2 separate regions of the Homo sapiens genome follow, and region 1 is linked to region 2. A link means that fine-mapping ties the variant in region 2 to the expression of a gene that starts in the linked region. Tissue or cell type: whole blood. Region 2 holds a variant in brackets; the other region holds the start of a gene. All regions are shown on one strand. Distances are from middle to middle.

The links.
Region 1: MGAM2 starts here. The variant in region 2 is fine-mapped to the expression of MGAM2 in whole blood (TOPMed, PIP above 0.99).

What each region holds. Positions count from the first base shown.
Region 1 is chr7:142,109,955-142,112,877 of GRCh38, reverse strand. It overlaps MGAM2 (maltase-glucoamylase 2 (putative)), which reads right to left and starts at 1,160. Exons shown (of 48, transcript NM_001293626.2): 1 at 1,071-1,160.
Region 2 is chr7:141,987,158-141,990,080 of GRCh38, reverse strand. It overlaps a transcript of MGAM not described here. Among named protein-coding and RNA genes, the nearest start is that of MGAM, 7.3 kb to the left of the region's middle. The variant TA/A (reference allele first, on the strand shown) is at 1,391.

The DNA.
Region 1 (2,923 bases), 120 kb before region 2:
AATCAGTTGTCTCTCTTTTAGTCTAAATTATTTAAAAGATATACTCTAATCCCTATAAAATATATATCATATGACTGTATTCTCATAAAATCCCTGCATTGAAGCTGATCAGACAGATATCATGATTTCCATTTTATAGATGAATATTAAGAAATTTTGTCTAGTCACGGTTAGTGGTGGAACTGAGACAAACACCGAGAGCCGCTACTTTTTAAAATAGTACTTGAATACTCTCTCGACAATGTATCCTAGGCTGCAGAGCTTAAAGACTTAGAGGATCGGTCTCCAATGGTGGAATTTCAGGTAGAGAAAGAAGTAGGAAGGACCTACCCTAAGAGTGCTATGGTATCAAACTTCGTTTCTTATACATACAGCCCACAACTCAATACCACAGCAAAGGCATTATTCATCAATTGGTCTCTTTCTGCAAGTATTATTTCTCTCCACAGGGAGACTTTTTTCTTTCTAGCTTCTAAAAATCAGCAGCAGGGACCTACTCCACAGCTCCTCAATCCTCCTGAGGGAGCAGGTTCAGCACCTTAGCTCAGGAAGTACAGGAACGCTCTGGGAATAACCCTGGGTATTTTCCTGCCTTAGGAGCTATTGTCATTCAGGCAGAGGACAGGATGGGGATTCCTAAAGGTAGAAATTCTTGCCTACTTAGAAACCCTTCCTGCCCAAAGCTGGGAGGAATTCACCTTCCTCCAAATCCATGCCATCTTGAGATAGTTTCCAGAAGGATCCCATCTGTTTCCTCTGTCCTTAATTTCTCCCAGTGAGAGAGGAGGATCTCACACCAGACCTCCCCCAACCTGTCCTCCAAACACTGACACCACACACACACACACACACACACACACACACACACACACACACACAGTCTCTCCTCTCCATCAACTATCTCATCCTCACTCCTCATATTTTATGGAAAAGGAAGAAAATATTAAGTCCAGAAGGAAAACATGGGCATCCAGATCACTTAACAGAGCAGCAGACAGAAAATCACACAAAAAGAAAGGGACCTTCCTGCCCTTGTTCAAAGCCCTGCTTGCATGGAGAAGCGTACTCACCGCATCACCTTGTTTTTTTCTATGCTGTATCTCTCCCTCAGCAATTCATAGGGAGCACTGAGCAAAGGTAACTGGGCTGAGGTAGCCAGCTTCTGCCACAATTAATTTATTGCCTTATAAAGTTGACAGCAACTGGAGGAGGGGAGTGCATATTCCAATAGGTCATAAAAGAACGCTTGTTCTCCATGTGACACAGAATGAAAGCTCCTTTTGTTAATAAAAGGGGAAGGTGGTTTTTTTTCTACTCATTGTCCCTCTTCTGTATCCCTGTTCATATCTGATTACTTGTCACGTTATGTTTCCTCATCTATACATGTAGCCTAAAGGGCTCAAGAGCTAGGGTCTTGTCTATCTTCTTCACTGTTGTATCTCCTGTGCTTAGCACTCTGCCCAATATCCATAGTTCTTTTTAAATATATAGCTATTTATTTAATAAGTAAGTGAAAGAAGGATTAGCTCTTAGTTCATCACTTTGTTCTTTTCTCCATTTTCATCCTCCAGAGTTCTCTTGGTATAACTCAGCTTTTCATTAATTCAAATGATCCTTTCCACCAATTATTCTAAATAGTGAAGTACCATTAAAGTAGCAATTATACAAACCCGTCCAGGTGCAGTGGCTCACACCTGTAATCCCAGCACGTTGGGAGGCCGAGGTGGGCGGATCACCTGAGGTCAGGAGTTTGAGACCAGCCTGGCCAACGTGGTGAAACCCCATCTGCACAGCCAGGCATGGTGGCAGGCGGCTGTAATCCCAGCTACCCAGGAGGCTGAGGCAGGAGAATCGCTTGAACTCAGGAGGTGGAGCTGGCAGTGAGTTGAGATTGCCCTATTGCACTCCAGCCTGGACAACGAGAGCAAAACTCCATCTCAAAAAAAATAAAAGAGAAAGAATGTATACAAACCTAAAGTGGGAAGATGCCTCTAGTGGACATTTGTCATGTTCTTCGATGGCTCAGCATCTTTCAAAACCTCTTGCTAAGATGGGGGAGGTGGGGAGGGAGACAAAGGTAGTAACACTACCTATTGGGTACTATACTCACTACCTAGGTGACAGGTTCAATCACACCCCAAACCTCAGCATCACACAATATACCCTTGAAATGAACCTGTATATGCACCCTGAATCTTAGACCCTGAATCTAAAATAAAAGTTGAAAAAAATTTAAAAACGGAGGATCTTTCTTTAAAAAGAAAAAGAAAACCTCTTACTTAAATCAACTTAAGGACTTTTTCTCCAAATTCTGCCTCCCCAAAGAAACAGCTAGAAATTCTCTTTCACAGCCTTTCTTTCATCCAAGGTAGAGGCAAGTGGCTGGAGCTTTGTGAATGAGATATTCCTGTGAGTGACTTACATCCAGAAGAAGGTGTAGATAAGGAGGTACCATGTAAAATCCAGGATGTTGGAAGCATAGCTCGTTTCAGAGGCAGCAGGGACAAGAGACCTAGTGGCATCCTATGCTCAGTATTTGGGGTTGCGAGCTGCCAGATATGTGCTCAGGGCAGTGGCAGTAGAAACCGCTACAGGGTAACCTGGGGCTTGTCCCTAGCCACATGGCCTACAAACCTGACTCTCTAGTCCTACCGGAGTTTCAATGAGTCACCAATATCTTTTTAAAATTTTTCTTAAGCCAGCTAAAGTGGATTTTTAAATTGACATATAATTTCCAAACCATAAGATTCACTCTTTTAAAGTATACAATTCAGTGTTTTTAAAAATATATTTACAAAATTCTGAAACTATCACCACTATCTAATTCCAGAACATTTTTGCCACCCCCAAAAATAATTAGTGGTCACTCCCCATTCCCATCTCCCCCTGTTTCTGCAGCCACTAACCTACTTTCTGTCCTTAT
Region 2 (2,923 bases):
AGCCTCCTCAAACTCTCTGTCAAAGCCAGACCCACATGAAGAGCCCATTCTGAATGCTGAGCCCAGAAGTGACAGATGAGGCCCAGTGTGCATCCTTCCTCCTCCTACATGGAACATGACTTCATGTGTTCTCCCTTCCTGGAATAAAATCCTTGTAGAAAATAATAATTTTATCTGTGTGGATTTTACCAGTAATTAACTATGGGTGGATTAGGTGTCCCTAAAATATCCCTTTAGTATGAAATTGTCAAACATAGTATTTCATTCAAGATAAATCTTTTTTTGGAGAGTATTTTCATGTTAAATTTTCAGATGATTTCAACTGAAAATCTGGGGAATTTTCCATAAAAATTGAGGAATTTTGGAAAATTTGGAGAATGCACTTTAGGGATTCTCAGCCTCCATACAGCAGCAAGAGGATCACTTGAGCCCAGGAGTTTGAGGCTGCAGGGAGCTATGATAGCACCACTGCACTCCATCCTGGGCAACACAGCAAGACCCTGTCTCTAATAATCGAAAAAAAAAAAAAGAAAGAAGAACATGGAGTTTCAAATCAAACTAGCCTGGGCTTAAATATGAGGTCCTCTACTTACTTTCTGCAGAACTTGGACAACCATTTCAATTTTCTGAAGCTCAGTTGCCTTATCTGGAAATCAGGGATGATCATGAGTACTTCATGATGTTACTTTGAGCCTAAGCTGACATAAGTACCTGACATCCAATGTCAGTTTCCCAACCCCTCCTCAGCCAGTCCTTTCTGAAAATGAAATAATATCCAACAAGCAGTATCATTAGCTTAAATTCTGTTAAGAACTATTCCTCCAGTTCCTCAACCCTTAGGAATAGCCACAGTAAACAGTCAACACATCCCACACTGAACTGATTCCACAGGCCAATGGAGAAAAACCACTACTACAAGACTCTCTTTCTCTCTCTCTCTCTCTCTCTCCCTCTTTCTCTCACATACTCATACACACACACACACACACACACACTCACAAGCACATGGCATCTACACCCCCACCTATCAAAATGATTTCTCACAGTCTTCATAGCCTACAAACATTAATTTTTACCTCTGTTTTTATTGCAGCCAAGTTGTTTTCCTTCTTTTGTCCCATATAAAAGACCTTAACATCTCATGCCACCTGCAAAGGGCAAAAAGGAGTTAGTTGGAGTAGGAGTAATTTCTCTGCCCAGAAATGTTCAGAGGAAGGTGAGAGTGGAAACAATGTACACAGGACATTACAGCATTTCCTTGTCTTGTGAAATGTCTATTATTTAGCAGCTTTACACCGTCTTCTACTCCTTTCCTCTTCACCACCACAGATAAGAACACATGCACACACAAGTATGAGTACAGAGAGAATTTTAGGAATAACACATCACC[TA/A]GTATTCACATAAAACTTTACATTTGGCCATGCATGGTGGCTCACGCCTGTAATCCCAGCACTTTGGGAGGCCGAAGCAGGTGGATCACCTGAGGTCAGGAGTTCGAGACCAGCCTGGTCAACATGGTGAAACCCCGTCTCTACTAAAGATATAAAAATGAGTCAGGCATGGTGGCGGGCGCCTGTTATCTCAGCTACTCGGGAGGCTGAGGTAAGAGAATCGCTTGAACTTGGGAAACAGAGACTGCAGTGAGCCCAGATTGCGCCACTGCACTCCAGCCTGGGTGACAGAGTGAGACTCTGTCTCAAAACAAAACAAAAAACGACAACAACTTTGCATTGTGTGACACTTTGCAGTTTTCAGAGTACCTTTTAAATATTTTTGTTTTTTTTTAAGACAGAGTCTTGCTGTGTTGCACAGGCTAAAGTGCTGAAGTGCAGTGGCGCAATCTCGGCTCACTGCAACCTCCTCCTCCTGGGTTCAACCAATTCTTCCACCTCAGCCTCCTGAGTAGCTGGGATTACAGGCATGCACCACCACGCCCGGCTAATCTTTGTATTTTTAGTAGCTATGGTGTTTCACCATGTTGGCCAGGCTGGTCTTGAACTCCTGACCTCAGGTGATCCACCCACCTTGGCCTCCCAAAGTGCTGAAATTAAAGGCATGAGCCACCACGCCCAGCCTCGGAGTACTTTAATCTGTACTATTTCATTGATCACAACAATCCTTTAAGATAAGGCAGGTATTTTTAATGCCCATGTATAAATGAGGAAACAGAAACTAAGAGAAATGAGTTGCTAAAGGTCACTCATATAGTGGTGGGGTTAAAGTCATACTAATTTAATTTCAATCCAGGAATCCAATGTTCATAGGGTTTGAAAGCAGTAAATACAGAAAATGGCTTTTTCAAACTAAATGTTTGTTCATTCATTCAACAAATTCAAAGTGGATTTGCCACCAAGTCTCCCAAACGGGAATCCCTCCAATCCTATCAGTTGTCAAATTCTAGCATCCTCACCTCAGAGATGGCTATTTCTCTTTAAGCTCAAATCTTGTTCTAGAAACCCCCATTATTTCCTCCATGCCCCCCTCCCCTGTGCCTCGCTGACACCTGCATGGTCCACTTCTGTGTGGGAAGCTCAACATAACCCTAACACTCTGATCTCAGCTGAGTGAACCAGCTGGACAGATGATCCGACTTCGTCCAGATGGATTCGCCCTCCCAAAAATTTAGATTTGAGACACAGTGCCTGAATCATACTGCACTGAGTGAGCACTATGTCTGTGGGATTACGGCATGTTATTAAGATACAGAGATTAGTTTTACTGAAAATGCTTGTTTGTCCAAAAGAGAATGGGATACACATGTAGAGAGTAGCAGAAAGAAAACATTCAAACCCACAGAAGGAAAAGCAGAGAGATTAACTGCCAGTATTCTTTTCATTTCTGTGAAGGCCAAGGTACAAGTTAATTTCATGTAATTCTCCTATTTCTTCATCAAAACACTACCTTTACTATGCCTATGACTACC